Regions from separate parts of the Homo sapiens genome. Here regions 1, 2 and 3 are each reported to be linked to region 4. The links are microRNA targets in miRTarBase. Many come from high-throughput screens and were not tested one by one. Region 4 holds a microRNA gene; each other region holds the end of a gene's coding sequence. Distances are from middle to middle.

Evidence for each region. The annotated mature microRNA hsa-miR-5008-3p reads CCUGUGCUCCCAGGGCCUCGC and lies in region 4 at 1,145-1,165, opposite strand. An mRNA with a match to its seed (bases 2 to 7 or 8) in the 3' UTR can be bound and repressed. Matches are read on the target gene's strand: a 7mer-m8 pairs with bases 2 to 8, a 7mer-A1 pairs with bases 2 to 7 and ends in A, and an 8mer does both.
Region 1: miRTarBase lists MOB3C as a target of hsa-miR-5008-3p. Seed matches in the 3' UTR shown: 8mer at 709-716 and 7mer-m8 at 1,480-1,486.
Region 2: the mRNA of ING5 is a reported target of hsa-miR-5008-3p. Seed matches in the 3' UTR shown: 7mer-A1 at 681-687 and 7mer-m8 at 2,758-2,764.
Region 3: the mRNA of TTLL5 is a reported target of hsa-miR-5008-3p. Seed matches in the 3' UTR shown: 7mer-A1 at 3,116-3,122.

Annotation. Positions count from the first base shown.
Region 1 is chr1:46,605,977-46,609,976 of GRCh38, reverse strand. MOB3C (MOB kinase activator 3C) reads left to right here. Exons shown (of 4, transcript NM_201403.3): 4 at 293-2,258. The coding sequence ends at 322. Among named protein-coding and RNA genes, the nearest start is that of MKNK1, 3.7 kb to the right of the region's middle.
Region 2 is chr2:241,724,518-241,728,517 of GRCh38, forward strand. ING5 (inhibitor of growth family member 5) reads left to right here. Exons shown (of 8, transcript NM_032329.6): 8 at 472-4,000. The coding sequence ends at 514. Among named protein-coding and RNA genes, the nearest start is that of D2HGDH, 8.1 kb to the right of the region's middle.
Region 3 is chr14:75,953,912-75,957,911 of GRCh38, reverse strand. It overlaps TTLL5 (tubulin tyrosine ligase like 5), which reads right to left. Exons shown (of 32, transcript NM_015072.5): 32 at 2,833-3,488. The coding sequence ends at 3,466. Among named protein-coding and RNA genes, the nearest start is that of TGFB3, 26 kb to the left of the region's middle.
Region 4 is chr1:227,940,466-227,944,465 of GRCh38, forward strand. MIR5008 (microRNA 5008) reads right to left here and starts at 1,218; the gene lies at 1,125-1,218. The region is part of intron 1 of WNT9A (Wnt family member 9A); the gene reads right to left. RefSeq lists an enhancer at 1,665-2,567.

The DNA.
Region 1 (4,000 bases), 180 Mb from region 4:
CCTACCAAGGCTAGCCTCTGAGTTTTCACGTCCAAAAGCTGCCTGCTTTAAGTAACTCCAACGCCCAAGTAGATGAATTAGGGGAAGGCAATTCATTTAACAGTGAATTCTGTACTTCAATAGAGAATTCATTCAAGTGTTGGTTTACAAACCCAGATCTGCAGCCTAAGAGTTGGGGTTGCTGGGGGAAGGCCAGGCTCAGACAGAAGAGCAGCTAGGCCCTATGGTTTGGGAAGGGATTGCCTAGTAGGCTGAGCTCTAATTGACCCCTCCCTACCTTGTGTCTCTACAGAGGGAGATGACAGAGCGGATCTGCCACTGAGCCCAGGTCTGGACTTTTTTGGCCATCAGATGGACGATCTGAACATAGGGTGGCTGGCAGAGGGGACCCCCAGGAGCCTGAAGGAATCTGAAGGCACTGGAATCACTCCACACACCCAAAGCCTCTGGACTTCTGGTTCTCAGGAGTCTGCCTACCTGTCGCCCTGACCGCTTGTGGATGGAGAAGGGGAGAGCATCTAGGCAGGCAAACAGAAGGGAAGTGGAGTTAAACCTCTGGCATGAAGTCTGGGAGTAGGGTAGGCTAGGGGGTTTCTTCTATGACACTTGACCCTTCCATGCTGGTTCCCAAGCCTATTGGAGGAATGTGGGTGTGGCCGAGGTGATGGCAAGAAAGGTGCAAGAAAGTGAGCAGTCTGCCTGTGAGTGAGCACAGATGCCGGGGTGTGTGTGTGTGTGTGTGATTTTCACTGTGGGGTGTGTCTGTGAGAGCTAGCTGCCTTACCCCTCCTTGGCACATAGTAGGCCTTCCATAAATGTTGGATGGATGGATAAATAGATTGGGACCATCAGACCATGGGACCATCAGACCATGACCACTGTAGGAGTGATGACAGCTCAGCGTCCCCACTCAGTGTATCTGACCATGTGTGTAAGTGCACAAAAATGTGGTTGTAGATGTTGCTCTACATTCAAACCTTCCAGGCTACACTCTTCCATCAGCATGAGTCCTGGAGAGCTGGGGGAACGTAGGAAGAGGAGCCTTGCCTTGAGTTCCTAAACCGACCCACTGCAGACACAGGCTCTGATTCTCTTACCCAGAGATGCCCATGAGCTGACATTTTACTCATCCCTCTGCCTCCAAGAAGGCCTGTATTATACGTGTCCTCCTGGGGGTTGGAGATGATCCCTCAAGTACACAAAGGTCCCCTGGCCCTTCATCTGGGAATCATATACTCCACTCTAGCTCCCAGAATCTACAGACCTGGCTCCTCGGATCTGAAGCCCAGCACAAAATAATCTCCCCGTCCAAGGAGCTTGTGGAACTTGAATTGGGAACTTTGGAGTCTTGTCTCCCATCCCAGCACATTGAGGATGTAGTTGGTGAATGGACTCTTCCAGGCATGGAGATCCTCCATCCTAAAAGTACCTGCCTCCTTCCCAGCCATCCCTGACACATTCCAGCCAGTTGGATCTCACAGCACAGCTATCCACAGGGAGACTGGGATGTTCACGCAGCACTCCATTACTCAGTACCTCCATACCCAGCCCTATACGCAGACCCACAGGTGGGGAAACTGAGGCAGGAACAGGGTTCTGCCCTCCCAGAGCCTCCACTCTGGGATGCCAGAATGGAAAGCCAGAGGGAACCTGAGAATCATCCAGTCTTACTGTCTCAATGTACATACGGGGAAACTGAAGCCAGGAGAAGAAGAGGGAGAAACTGTCCAGGGCCTCACAGGGAGGCATTCATGGAGCTGGAGAAACCAGGGATCCTGACCGCAGGGCCCATCAATTGCTACATAGAGATACACATGGAAAGAGGGTTTAACAGACCCTCTCTAGGACACAACTGTTTCTGCTTTGAGCAATAATTTCTAACCTGAGGCCAACATGTCCCACTGCCCCTTGGGTTGGCTGGGGTTGTTTCCTGAGCCAAGCATCCAATATCATGCCCCACTCAATGGCCTAGAAGCTGCCTGTACTTTGGGGAAACAGATGGAGCTCTTGGGCCCAGCCAGCTGGGCCTGGGACTTCTGCCTCTGCCGCCTCCAGAGTGGCCTGGCAGCTTTGCCAGAGGCTGTGGAGCGAGGGTAGTAGGAGCTTTTCCCAGAGTGCTGTGACTTGCATGATGGATTCTAGGCTGTGGCAAGGGCTGATTTCTGGGATAGGGGGAGGGTTGGAAAATTTATTTTTATGAAACAGAGGGAAGACTTTATTGTTGTTATTTTTGGTAAAATAAAAGGCAAACTAAAGCAGCCACTGGTGGGAAGCGGTGATCTGGGTGCCACATGGCTCTTGGCAGACCATGGAAGGAACTGAGCCAGAATGGGGCTGGGAAGGCTTTTTGTCCTGAGATACTGGACCATGTGGAGGGCTGGCTGGTGTGGTCATGTCTGGCCCAGCTCTCTAGGGTGGGGACACAAAGATTCTCCTGGGGCTCTGGAAATTCTAGACCGAGCTAGGCTAGGACGCTTGGGGTGGAGAAGCCTGGCTTTTCTTTGCCTTCCGGGAACTCAGTCTGATAGGAATCGTTCCTTGTTTCATCTCAGGTTGCCTGGCATTGGCTATTCTTTTTTTTCTTTTTCTTTTTTTTTTTTTTTTTGAGATGGAGTCTTGCTCTGTCACCCAGGTTGGAGTGCAGTGGCGCGATCTTGGCTCACTGCAAGCTCCGCCTCCTGGGTTCATGCCATTCTCCTGCCTCAGCCTCCGGAGTAGCTGGGACTACAGGCACCCACCACCACGCCCAGCTAATTTTTTTGTATTTTTAGTAGAAACGGGGTTTCACCGCGTTAGCCAGGATGGTCTCGATCTCCTGACCTCGTGATCTACCCGCCTCGGCCTCCCAAAGTGCTGGGATTACAGGCATGAGCCACCACGCCTGGCCTGGCATTGGCTATTCTCACTCCAGCCCCTTACTCTGGGTGGTTTTTTTTTGAGGTAGTAGATAAAAGGACAGAGTGGAAATACAATCCCAACACTAATTACAGGACAGGAGGCCATCCTGAAGAGGAAGATACTTGTTGCTGGCTGGAGCTACGGTGGGGGTGGCAGGACATGGGCCTGACTCCTGAGCTTACTCCCCAGTAGACATCTGCATCTATTGGCTCAGGTCTTGCTGTCATTCCACTGCCCCAACTCACAAGCTGCCTGGGCAGGAATTAAAAAGCAGCTTGGTTCTTAAGAGTCAACAAAGGCCCATCTAGAGCTCTTCCCTCTTCCTGCAAAGGAGCCAGCCTGGCTTTGTGCAGAGGCTCTCCTGGGAGGCAAAGGCATAGGTTGTAGCCCCAGCCCAGCTCCTGAAGTTCCATTGCAAGCCCATTCCCCCTCTAGACCCCAACCCTTCATCTATTTTGTTATCAGTGATGGGAGTGAAGGACTGATTGATCTCAGCTCCTTCATTATATAGTCTATGAATCATTCACAGTCATCATAACAGCTAATGTTCATTATGTGTCAGGTACACTTCTAAGTGCTTGACATATAATAGCTTGTTGAATCAAGTGTGTCTTTGGCCAGCTGCCTTGCTTCCCTTCCAGCCCCCAATATCCCTGCCTTTAGTCACTCCTCTAGAATCTGGAAGGCCCTCCATTCTGCTGCCTCTTCCTCTGGCTCACCACAGGAGGCCCAATCCCAGCATTCTAAAAGGGTGCTATTTGCACACCTCCTATAACAGATCGCTCACTACCTCCTCTGTCATTGGACAGCTCAGACTGTTACAAGTCCCATGCTTTGGGTTCATGGTCATTTTGAAATATGACCATGGCAGTGAGAGTAGATTTATCTTAGAACTGTGTGACCCAAGACCTGCACCTTACATGAGAATATCTGTAAATACATTAGGAAGCTGACACAAAATTGCTTTGAGAGATTCACAGAGGGATGCTTAAAGAAGAATAGACAGAAAGGAAGAGAAGGGGAAAAGAAAGAGATAGGGCCTCAATGATGCAGATAAAAGAGCACACTCCCATGGGGCAAAACCTAGTAACAAAGGGTCCTG
Region 2 (4,000 bases), not on the chromosome of region 4:
GCGTGCAGCTCCAGAACTTGCTCAGAGTCACCAGGGAGCACTTGTGAGACGGCAGCTTCCAGGGCCAGTGCAGGGTGCCTGGCTGGGTTTCCGTGGGCCTGAGGGGCTGCCATGCTCTCAACGCGTGCTTGGTACCTGCAGCCCCCACAGACTGCAGACAGAGGGCACCAGCGACCCTGCCATCGGCCGGGGAAGAAGGACCCACCTGTTAAGGAGGAACGCCTGGGTGTCAAATCGGTTTTGCTCATTGATGGTGTATCTGTCAGCTTCAGAACCGGCGTCCTGCATAGAGCCGCACGTGCATCGGCGCATTTTCCCTGCGGGAGGGCCGCGGCCCCACTGCGTGTGCCTCTCCTGGTGCCCTCCTGCCGGCGTCCAGCAGCCCTGGGAGACATGGGGAGGCGGGCCCTGGGCACCCTGCGCGCTGGCGGAAATGGCGCCCAGGGCCTCACTGCGCCTTTCTTGTCACAGGTTCTGTCCACGGTGTGTCCAGGAAAAGAGGAAGAAGAAGTAGGAGGAGCTGTGTGCCCGGATCCGAGGAGCAAGTTAATCTGTCCCTTCATTCGTGTCGCAATATTTCCCTTCCTTTTAAAACTACCTTGTTCGGTTGATACTTAGTAACTCCGTGGCCAGTTGAAGCGCTGGATGTTTCCTAGAACAAGAACCACCAAAGCCTGTTCGCACAGAAGGGCGACCTTGCAGGGACTCGCCGCCGCGACCTCAGTGTGGCTTTTACAGGACTCCCCCCGAGCATCAGCAGGGACCCCGGCGGACGTGGGCGGGCGCGCGTGAGCTCGGGCTGCCCGGCCGGGCGTGCGGGCGGGGACATGGTAACCTGGTCCACGGAGGGCGGCCGCCACCCTCGCGTAGCTTTCCTGTGGTTTTCCAGGACTGTCCGGTACAGCCCGGGCTCCGCGTGCCCCGCCCGCTGGAGCACCTGCCACCGAGGCGCGCGTGGGGCCACTGCCGTGGCGGCGGCTGCCCTCCTCACACTCGGCTCCGCGCCGCCTCCGGCCACCGTGCGCTCCCGCGTGGGGCGCCTCGGATGGGCCCGGGAGGGCTGGGGGCTCTTCCCTGGAGGAAGCGGCCTCCGCTTCGCTGGCGCCGCCTTTTTAGCTTGGACTTCAGTCCTCCCTCGGGGACTCACCTCCGGAGTAAACGGCTCTTCATTAGCTTGGAGTGGCCGCAGGTCCCGTGACCAGCACCCGCGAGACCCTGTGCGACAGCTGGGCTGATGCTCCGTTTCTCTGGGAATTGGTGATTTTTTACTGTGAAGATGAAATTACCCTAATAGCATGAAGATCGTGGGTCTGTGTGTCCGTGAAGTGAGTCCCGTCTGCCAGGAGCTGACGAACCACGAATGCTTCTGCCTGTGCTGTGCATTCCCAGGCCCGCAGCTCCCGGTCGAGGGGACTCCGATGTGAATTTGTTGTGAATTTGTTGTGCCACAATAGCAGTTCTGGAATGAAGCTAGGAAACTCGAGTGTGCTTTTTGTTTAATGAGCGTTCACCAAGCTGAGCCGGAGCCATCCTTTCGGTGGTAGTTGGGGAAGGCTATGCAGATTTGCTCTGTTGTGACGCGTTGGTGACGGTGCCCAGCCTGCGGTTCCCCACAGCATCGCAGGCGCTCGGAAATCCTCTCCCGTGCCTTTAGAGGAAGGAGAGGATTGCTGAGGAATGCAGGGACGCCTGTTTCTGTCCTCACACCACAGAAAGAAACCTGAGGGAAAACTGAGACGTGAGGTTCCTGATTTAAGAAGCCTGGGTTTCTTCATGGTGGGGGGCCATTTGGAATGACAGCCTCACTTCCTTCTGATGGCTACATCTGTATCTTTTCCTCCTGTGTTTAATGTTTCACTAGGGAGAGGAAATAAAGCAGAAGGAACGTGTGAAGCTCTGTGTCTCAGACGGGGCCCTCCCGTCGAGAAGCTGGTAGTCAGTGAGTGAGAACAAGAGAACAAGAACACCCTGAACAGTCCTGGTTGGGATGGTGTCCACATTCATGTTCTGCGGTTCTTGAACACACGGATGCCTCTGGGCCACCTGTCCTTTTCCGAGGGTGTGGGTGGGAGTGGATCCTCCGGGCGCAGGTGCCAGGCAGGTGCAGGCGGGCGGTCGGCCACTGCTGCTGCTCGTCCCTGCCAGTGTCTGGGCCTGAAGGGGCTCCCTCCAAGCGGTGCCTTCCTGCGGCTTAGAAGGGAAAGCGCCAGAGAGGGCAGGCTACAGTGCTTCACACCCTTCGCCACGGCTGTGAAACTGGAGATGGGTGGGTTTTGTATGTTAATTTTTTTTTTTGAGACGGAGTCTTGCTCTGTCACCCAGGCTGGAGAGCAGTGGCGTGATCTCGGCTCACTGCAAGCTCCGCCTCCCGGGTTCACGCCATTCTCCTGCCTCAGCCCCCCCGAGTAGCTGGGACTACAGGCGCCCGCCACCACGCCTGGCTAATTTTTTATATTTTTAGTAGAGACAGGGTTTCACCATGTTAACCAGGATGGTCTCGATCTCCTGACCTCACGATTTGCCCGCCTCGGCTTCCCAGAGTGCTGGGATTACAGGCGTGAGCCACCGCGCCTGGCCACCCAGCTAAGTTTGTATTTTTGTTGGAGACGGGGTTTCACCATATTGGCCAGACTGGTCTCAAACTCCTGGGGTCAAATGATCCGCCTGCGTCGGCTTCCCAGAGTGCTGGGATTACAGGTGTCAGCCACTGCGCTCAGCTGGGAGATGAATTTTCATTTAATGACTTAACTTTTTGTTAGCACAGGTTTTGTGTGTGTGTGTGTGTGTGTGTTTTGTTTTTTGTTTTGTGTTTTTGAAACGGAGTTTTGCTCTGTCACCCAGGCTGGAATGCAATGGCACCATCTTGGCTCACTGCAACCTCTGCTTCCTGGGTTCAAGTGATTCTCTTGCCTTAGCCTCCCGAGCAGCTGGGATTATAGGCGTCCACCACCACGCCCAGCTAATTTTTGTATTTTTAGTAGAAATGGGGTTTCACCATGTGTGGCCAGGCTGGTCTCGAACTCCTGACCTGAAGTGATCCACCCGCCTCGACCTCCCAAAGTGCTGGGATGACAGGCATGAGCCACCGCACCCGGCCAACACAGATGTTTATTGATCGTGGAGGATACATTGTGGAAAATGTTTTTCTCTCTTTTACCATTTTTGGGAAGAGGGATAGGTAAGTGCAGGGAGTTTGTGCTGAAACAGCGCCTGGCAATTTTTCAGAAATGAATTTGATATTGCGCTCCACCTTTGAGCTGTTCACACCTGTGGCTACCCCTGGAAAGCGCTGGGGTTGTTGATGCTTTTGGCTGCCCGGCTTCCTGAGGTCTCGCTGCTTTTTGGGGAAAGATGACTGGCTTCCCTGTGGGACGCTTTTGTCTGACACGTGATGATGTGGTCCTGCCTGCCACTGTGCACCATCCCAGGTATTGAATTTTGACCTTTTCTTTTCAAGTTTCTGTGCTTAGTGTTTTTAATGTTTACTTTTGCCACTTACAATAATATCACCAAAATAATATGCATAGAGTTTTGGAAGAAACATAGAAAACATGAGCAGAATGAGACAATTCCTTGGGCTGTAGTTTGGACCCAACTGAATCCTGAGTGCTCTGTGGCTGACGCTGTCTACCCGTGGGAGAGACACACTCAGGAGTGGCCGTTTGGCCAGAAAAGAAGGTCATGGCCCCTGGCCTGGCCCCCGCCCTGCAGGGACACAGAAGCCACACCATTTGCACCATCCACGCCTTGCTCCAGAAGGCCTGGCCGCCTTCTCCCTGGGGGTGATTCAAGGATTTGGTCTCGGACCAGACCCCCCTCCACAGCTGCCCGGCCCCAGACCCATCTCTTGGATTGAGGGTGTGTGGGCTGGAACCAGTGGGTCACTGTGGCAGCTTCATCTGAGCCGAAGGTGTGGGTCCTCTGTGGCTGTGCGATTGACCTCGATGGGAAGGAGCGTTCTACCCATTTTCCTTGTTTTCAGTGCTGCGGTATCAGTCAG
Region 3 (4,000 bases), not on the chromosome of region 4:
TGCGTCTTTCCTTCTTGCAGAGTATATTATTCTCAGAGACACAGAGGCAGTGGCTCAGATTGGCAGAAAGCACATACGAATTTGACCTCCAGATACCTGTGGGCAGGATCCCCTGGTGTGAATCCTTGCATATGGAAACATGGTTTATTTACTAACTATAAATTACCAACATCACTGTTTTCGAAAATCTCCCCCCACCCGTATCAGTTGAGAATGAGAGAAAATGTGTATGGCAAATGGCCTAAAAATATGAGGCTAATTCTGTTCTCAGGCTAAGCCTAAAAGAGCTAACCAGGAACCCCTTTTCAGATTGTGGCCCTCTTGTCAGGGATCTGGGAACCATAGCTCTCTTTTGAGTGAGGCCGTGGATCCCACTGTGGTATGGACATCCACGTGGGGCAGCCGTCCACAGTGAGCGGGCACAGAGCGACAGGCCATCTAGCAGCTCCTGAGAAACACATTCTTCTAGTGAGATCACTTTGCCTCTAGTAAAAGAAAAGTCTATCTGAAGCTAAAGTATGCAGGCTGAAGGATGTGTCTGATGTGTTCATGCCTGTGTGTGTGTGTACGTATGTGTGTCCCTTGTTCCTTGAGTTCTCCAAGACTGAAGTGAGTTTGGTCAGTACTTTTTTCCCCGCTTTGTCCACGCCCAGCCAATTCTAAGGGTTTCCCTCTCAGTCTTCATCCCATGTGGCACCCACTGACTTCCACCATCGTTCGGAGGGCTATGTCCCTGTCCTAAAATCCTGGCTGGCGGGATTATACTCCATCTTGCTCCAGGGAGCCCGGGGGCACAGAGAGGGGATGCAGTAAGCTCAGCACATCAGCCACGGGCTGCTGCTGTCCCAGCATCAGTCTATTCACCTGAGGGCCATTCTCAAATTCACTGGGCATGATAACCCCCAAGGGTTTATTTAAAATGTACAGTTTCAGGCTGCAGCTCTAGAGGTACCTTTAGGACTGCAGTAGGGTCCAGGTTGCCTCAAAACTATTAACACATTTTGAGAAGTGGTGCATTACACCCGACATCACTCGTCCTTACTTGAGGCTTCAATATAGAAAAGGGAAATAATTTTTTTGGCCCCAGATGAAACCCCCTTTTATCCAACTTCACAGCACATTGCTAAAACATTGGCCTGTGGTTCATCCTAATGAACCAAGGCAGCTAGATACATTTCCTGGATTATTCCAAAGAAAACAGAACGTGGTGCAATTCCAAATGGTCTTTTTCTTCAGAGCTCTACTTGTAGGTTAGGCAGCAGACACAAATACGGACAGGGGTCTGAAGTCAGCCCCCCTATTCTACACATCACTGACAGGTGCTACAGAAACTTGAATCACTGTCTTCAAAAATCGACGCTTGTTTTGGGGGAGGGTAAAGAGTGACATTGGAAATATCACCTCTGTTGGAGGAGGGCTCATAGCATCTGTCTGGTTTATTGCCAAGTGAAGTCCAGTCCCAATAAAAATGACTTGAAAGCACTTGGACACATGAAGGGAGAGATCTGGTGTCTTAGCACCTGATCAGCATATGGTAAGTGCAGTAAGAAATTAGCTGGAAGACTTCATTCTGATTGGTTACCTAGGGCAATTTCAAGCATTATAGTCTAAAACTTCTTTTACTGGGCTCATACTTTTTTCCCTTGTCACAAGATTCACGTGGTGAGTCCTCCCAAACCCCTTATTTCCCAATTCTACACCTCATCAGGGGACTATGGAGGAATTCTAATTTGTCCCCTAATCAACTCACAACCAATTGAGCAAATAGTTAAGGTGGTCCTGAAACTACTCTCCAGTCCCGGGGACATTTGGAATGCATTCTTACTTCTCTTCTGAAACCCATAGACCTCATCCTTCACAAGCAAACAAAATGTGTCCATGTGCCCAAACCTTTGTTTTCATTCAGTAAGAAGGCAATAAAGTCCCTTTTCTGCCCTTTTAGGTGTCAATTTTTTCTTTTTTTTTTTTTTTTTTTTTTTTTTCAGGTGGAGTCTTGCTCTGTTGCCCAGGCTGGAGTGCAGTAGCATGATCTCGGCTCACTGCAACCTCTGCCTCCCAGGTTCAAGCAATTCTCCTGCCTCAGCCTCCCGAGTAGCTGAGATTACAGGCGCCTGCCACTGCGCCCAGCTAATCTTTGTATTTTTAGTAGAGACGAGGTTTCACCATCTTTGCCAGGCTAGTCTTGAACTCCTGACCTCGTGATTCACCCGCCTCGACCTCCCAAAGTGCTGGGATTACAGGCGTGAGCCACTGCGCTCAGCCAGGTGTCAATTTTCTTTTTGGATTTCAACACTGAGTCCATAGTACCCTGCTGAAGAAGCCCCAGAGCCTGGGTTCTCCCCTGATAACTCTCTAGGGCAGCTAAGTTAATCCTTCAGTGGACTCTGCTGTCCAACTCTCAACCTTTTCTCTAGCAGAAGCCAGAGAGAGAGGACATAGGAAAGGGGAGGAAGCAAGAGGGCGGAGGCTTGAGGGGAGAGCACTGGGGCTGTGCTGCATCATTCAGGTGAACTGCGAGGTATGCAACATGCAACTGGATACAGGGCTCAAGCCACTGGAGGCCCACGCTGTGAGTGAGCCTGCCTGTCGAGGGCTGATAACGGAGACATCTGCACATGCCCGCTCCCCAGGTGCAGGAGCTGCCTTTGGGAATAGCCTGGACCCACCATCTGCTGAAATGAAATGTAAAAATAAAACATCTCTTTACAGCTCACATTTCTAAAATGTTTAAAAAATTGCACAGCCACAAAGTAAAATAAAAAACTGGTTCTACTTCAGTCCTGTTTGTGAATATTGATTGTTGGGAAATTAGTAAAGGGAAAAAAAAGAAAATAAAAATAGAATTACTTTATTAATCTTTGAAATCAGTAATTCCAAAGGGTGCCTTTACCCTGGCTCATGTTGTCAATGGCACACCGATTTGTCTCCTCTCTCTAGGAAACTTGTGATGAATGCTCCTCTTTCCCCCTAGATCCTCCGAAAAGGGAGGAACAACTTTGGCGGATGATGATGTTGAAATTTTAAGCTTGTACAAAGAAAATAAAGCTTCATACTGTAATCTGGAAAAGAAGAGGAAGCAAAATGCAAATAGCCAAAGAGCCTCTTTTATATCATCTCTGTGCAGCAGCAGTAAAGGGACAGAGAAGACCTAAGCAGTTTGGGGGCATGGGGCAAAGGGAAGGTAAAAGATACAAGTGTGCTCTGACGGGGTATATAATGCATCAGCTGAATGTCCCCACTGCCAAGTTCCATCAAAACCCAGAAGATCTGCTTTCTTGTTGTCCCAGTGAAAGTCTGCATTGGCTGATTGGCAACCATCTACTGCCACTTCTGCTCGAAGGCTTTGGGGACTTTGAGGCAGCAAAAAAAAAAATACTATGGACCCCTTGAAGTGCTGGTGGATGCTTCACCCTCAATCATGCACCCAGGAGTGGTGAACAGGTTGTTTCTCTGTGTGTTTGTGGTTCATATTTTAGTGTGAGCAGGATCTGAAAAAGAGAAAGGCAACCATGAAATGAATGAAATGACAGCATGGGGTTTTACTTACAGGCAGCAATGTCTGGTTTATCTAACATCACTGAAGAATAAAGAAGTGGTGGCCCAAATAAATGAAGTTCACCTCTAAGTGGAAAGCTCTTTTTTTTTTTTTTTTTTTTTTTGAGATGGAGTCTCACTCTGTCGCCCAGGCTGGAGTGCAGTGGCGCGATCTCGGCTCACTGCAAGCTCCGCCTCCCGGGTTCACACCATTCTCCTGCCTCAGCCTCCCGAGTAGCTGGGACTACAGGTGCCCACCACCCACCATACCCGGCTAATTTTTTTGTATTTTTAGTGGAGATGGGGTTTCACCGTGTTAGCCAGGATGGTCTCCATCTCCTGACCTCGTGATCTGCCCACCTCGGCCTCCCAAAGTGCTGGGATTACAGGTGTGAGCCACTGCGCCTGGCCACAAAGCTCTTAATTTTAACCACTTTTGTTGGAAACCTTCCTAAAATACTCCCAA
Region 4 (4,000 bases):
TCCCTTCTGGAGCTCACTCTCCTGTAGGTGTCACAGAGGGAGCATCCCAAAGTCCACCTGGCTCCCCTCCCCACCCCACAGTGACTCCAGGTCTGCAGCCTCTGTCCCCATCTGGCCAGGAGGGACGCCGGCCCTGACGTTCTCCAGCTCTGGGAGGCTCTGGCAGCAGCTCCTCCTGGGCCAGACCTCCAGCCCACTTCCCCTGGCTGCACTGACCTCAGGTATCGCTAAAAAAAACAAATGCAGCCTGCGGCTTGCCTTTTTCCATCGTCCCATCCGGCCACTGGTCCTGAGGTGCTGCAACTGCCAGCTGGACAGCTGGGCTTCCTCTGGCGGGCAGCGGCGCCCAGCCAGCCAGGACCATGCCGGGAGGGCAACAGGCTCCTGGGAGGGCCCAGGCTGCAGGTCACGGGGCCGGGGCGGCCCAGTGCCACCCAGGTCAGCAGGCACAGCAAGACCATCCCCAGCCACCTGCCACCCTGCCCGGCCTGGACCACGGATGTGCTTGAATATGACCCCTGAAGGAAAACCAGGGTCACGTCCCCGCCGGGGCTGCACTCTGCATGGCTGCTCTGGTGGGGCCATCAACACCTGGCCTATCGTCCACACACGGGAAGGTGCGGCAGCCTGGCAGCCAGGTCTGCACTGCACTACGTCTGGCCACAAGTGTAGACACAGCCCTGCCAGAGTCAGAGTCCTGTAGGACCCGGGGCTGGGCTGCCAGGTGAATGAGTGACACAGATCCACCTGGCAGGGAGAGCCTCAGGCTTGAGGGAGTCTTGGGATAGGAGGGCACACAGAATGCAGCTTGGAGAAGACCCCACAGGGACCCTTCTGGCCAATCCCAGAATTGAGCGACCAGGGAGAGAAGGATGCATCTGAGGAGAACACAAGGGGACCCTCCTGGCTGATCCCAGAGTTGAGCGACCAGGGAGAATAGAATGCATCTGAAGAGACCCCACGGGAACCCTCCTGGCTGACCCCAGAGTTGAGCAACCAGGGAGAGAAGGATGCATCTGAGGAGACTCCATGGGGACCCTCCTGGCAAACCCCAGAGTTGAGCATGCAGGGAGAGAAGGAGGCATCTGGGCAGTCACTGGGCTTCCTGCAAGAAGCAGCAGCTGGGGCCGACCTCAAGGGACAGGCGAGGCCCTGGGAGCACAGGGGAGATGGCACCACTGTGCCCCAAGGGCCTCACCTGACCCTAGGGGTCAGCCCCATCAGAGGTCAACTTCCAGCCAGAAGGCATGGGGTCTGGGGAACCCCCACTCGTGGCTGGCCTTCTGGGTTCTGGGGGCCTGGCTCAGTCCCCAGTCCCACAGACACTGCTGCGGGAGCCACCCTGGTCCCAGACAACTGCACCGGTCCTGACCCCGCCGCCCAGCACAATGCACAAAGGGAGCCCGTGCCGCAGCTGGGATCAGGTGGCGCGACCGAGGCCTGTCAACAGGTGTCGCTTTCCCGCAGCCCCCACCCTCCCACAGGCATCACCTCCTCCCTGCCCCAGGGTCCAGAGCCTCCAGGAGGTATCCGTGCCTGTGTGCTCTTTCCTAGGGGAAGAGTCACCCACACGCTTCTTTGATGGCCAAACCCCAGAGCAGGGCACCCCCAGCCCGGGCCACCCCAGCAGCCGGCGGAAGGTCCCAGGCCAGGGCAGGCACTGGGGCCCTCTGCAGCCTGCAGCAGGGCGGGAGCAAGATGAGGCCAGCTGTCTCCCCAACCAGACGTCCGCCGGCTGTGGACAGGACATCTGCTCCCTCAGCTGTGGCAGGCCAGGCACTGCTGCTCCGTCCTTACCACACACCCTCCACACCCTCCAGGGAGCCAGGACCCCCAAGCAGGTGGGGCAGGGAGAGGCTGGGGGTTCCAAGGCCCCTGGGTGCAGAGCAGGAAGGAGGAAGGCCACCAGCGCCTGCAGGGGCCATCAGGCTGACACTCCAGACCCTCCCACTTACGGCCCCACTGTCAGGGAAGCCAAGCACCTGGGTCCCTCTACTGGCCACGGGGTCCCAGTCCAGGAGTCCTGGAGAAATGCCCCGACTTTCCACTGGCCCTGTCCTCTCCTCTCCATGCTAAGAAGTCCCCAGGGAGTCCCCTGGCCCCCAGGGCCCCTCCTCTCAGCCCTCTGCTGAGGTCTGCCCCACTGAGCCACTTCCACGATCTCTCGAAACAAGGCAGCTCCCTGGCCCCTTTCCTCCCTGCCCTTCTGGCCCTCCAGAGCACTCTGTGTGGCCTTTCTTCCTGATGCCAGGCCCCACATGCTTCCTGGGGTGTCCTAAGTTGTTGGAGGGGGTGGGTCTCCAGGACAGTGCCTGCCCAAACCTAAGCCTGAGCTCTCAGCTGCTCCCAAACCCCCCGGCCCACAGTGCTCAGAGCACCCGACCCAGGCCCCAGCCATGGGGTCACCCCAGATGCCGCCTTCTTGCCAGCTCCTTCCCAGGCTTCTCTTGCCCAGCACACAGCCCCATGATTCCACACCTCAGGCCCACCCCTCCTTCTCCGGCCCTGCCAGGGACCCACAGGTGCCCCTCATCCAGGCAGCCAGCTGTGCCCCAGGCCTGATGCACAGAGAGGCAGAGCCATGGGACCAGGCAGGGTATGTCCTGCCCACAGCCAGCAGCCTCCCTCTTGGACCCTGCGGGGTCTGATGTTGGCACTAATGTGAGAAACACATCCCCTCCCCACGCCCATGACAGCAGCCTCTCCGCAGCCTCCTCTTGAGAGTCCCCTGAGCACCCAGAACTGCCCCACACCAGGCTCTAGGCAACGGGGGATGTCCTGGCTGCCCCCACCCACCCAGTGGGGCTGCCAGGGTGTCGCTGGCTCCTTGTGCAGGGGTAAGAGCGCCCACAGGCTCACAGGTCTAGAGACAAGGTTCTTCTCAGTCCAAGGAGAAATCCAAATATATAAAGAGCTCTCATAAACTCAACAGGAGAAAGACAAGCAGCCCCACTAAAAACAGGCAAAGGAGCTGCATGGACATTCTCCAAAGAAGACCCATGGCCCATGAGGCCACGAAAAGATGCTCAGCGCCACTGGCCACCTGACAAATGCAGTCAGAGCCCCACAAGGTGCCATTCCACACCCACTAGGATGGCTGCGGTAGAAAATAAAACAGAAAACCAGTGTCAGCGAGGAAGTGGAGAAAGGAGCCTTTCTGCACTGCCGGCAGAAATGTAAGATGCTGCATCCAGAAGGGTTTGGCAGGGCCTCAAAAACCTAAATGCAGGCGGGGAGCAAGGGCTCACGCCTGTAACCCCAGCACTTTGCGAGGCTGACGTGGGAGATCCCTTGAGCCCAGGAGTTCAAAATCAGCCTGGACAGCATGGTAAAACCCCATCTCTACAAAAAATAAAATTTAAAAAAATTAGCCAGGATTAGTGGCTTGTGCCTGTGGTCCCAGCTACTTGGGATGCTGAGGTGGGAGGACGGTTGAGCCTCTGAGGTGGAGGCAGCAATGAGCCTTCATCACATCGCTGCACTCTAGCCCGGGTGACAGAGCAAGACTCTGTCTCAATAAAACAAAACAAAAACATCACATGCATGTGACCCAGTACCTCCACTTCTATGTACCCCAAGAACTGAAAACACACACACACACACAAAACCTCACATACCAATGCTCACAGCAACATTATCCATCATAGCCAAACAGTGGAAGTGATCCAGATGTCCGTCAACTGATGAACGGTCAAAAAATCTCTCGGAGAGTCTTCCAGTCGAGTCTAACTCAGTCATAAGAAAGAAGGCAATACTAACGCGTGCTACAACGGTGATGCTGAGTGAGAGAAGCCAGGCGCGGAGGCCACACGGCATAGGATTCCATTTCTAGGAAACGTCCAGGACAGGCAGACCCGTGGAGAAAGAACGCAGACAAGTGGTTGCCAGGGACTGGGGGAGGGGAACGGGCAGCGACTGCCTAATGCGTATGAGGTTTCTGGGGTGAGGAAAATGTTCTGGAATTAAACAGTGGTGAGAGCTGCATGGCCTGGCAAATGAG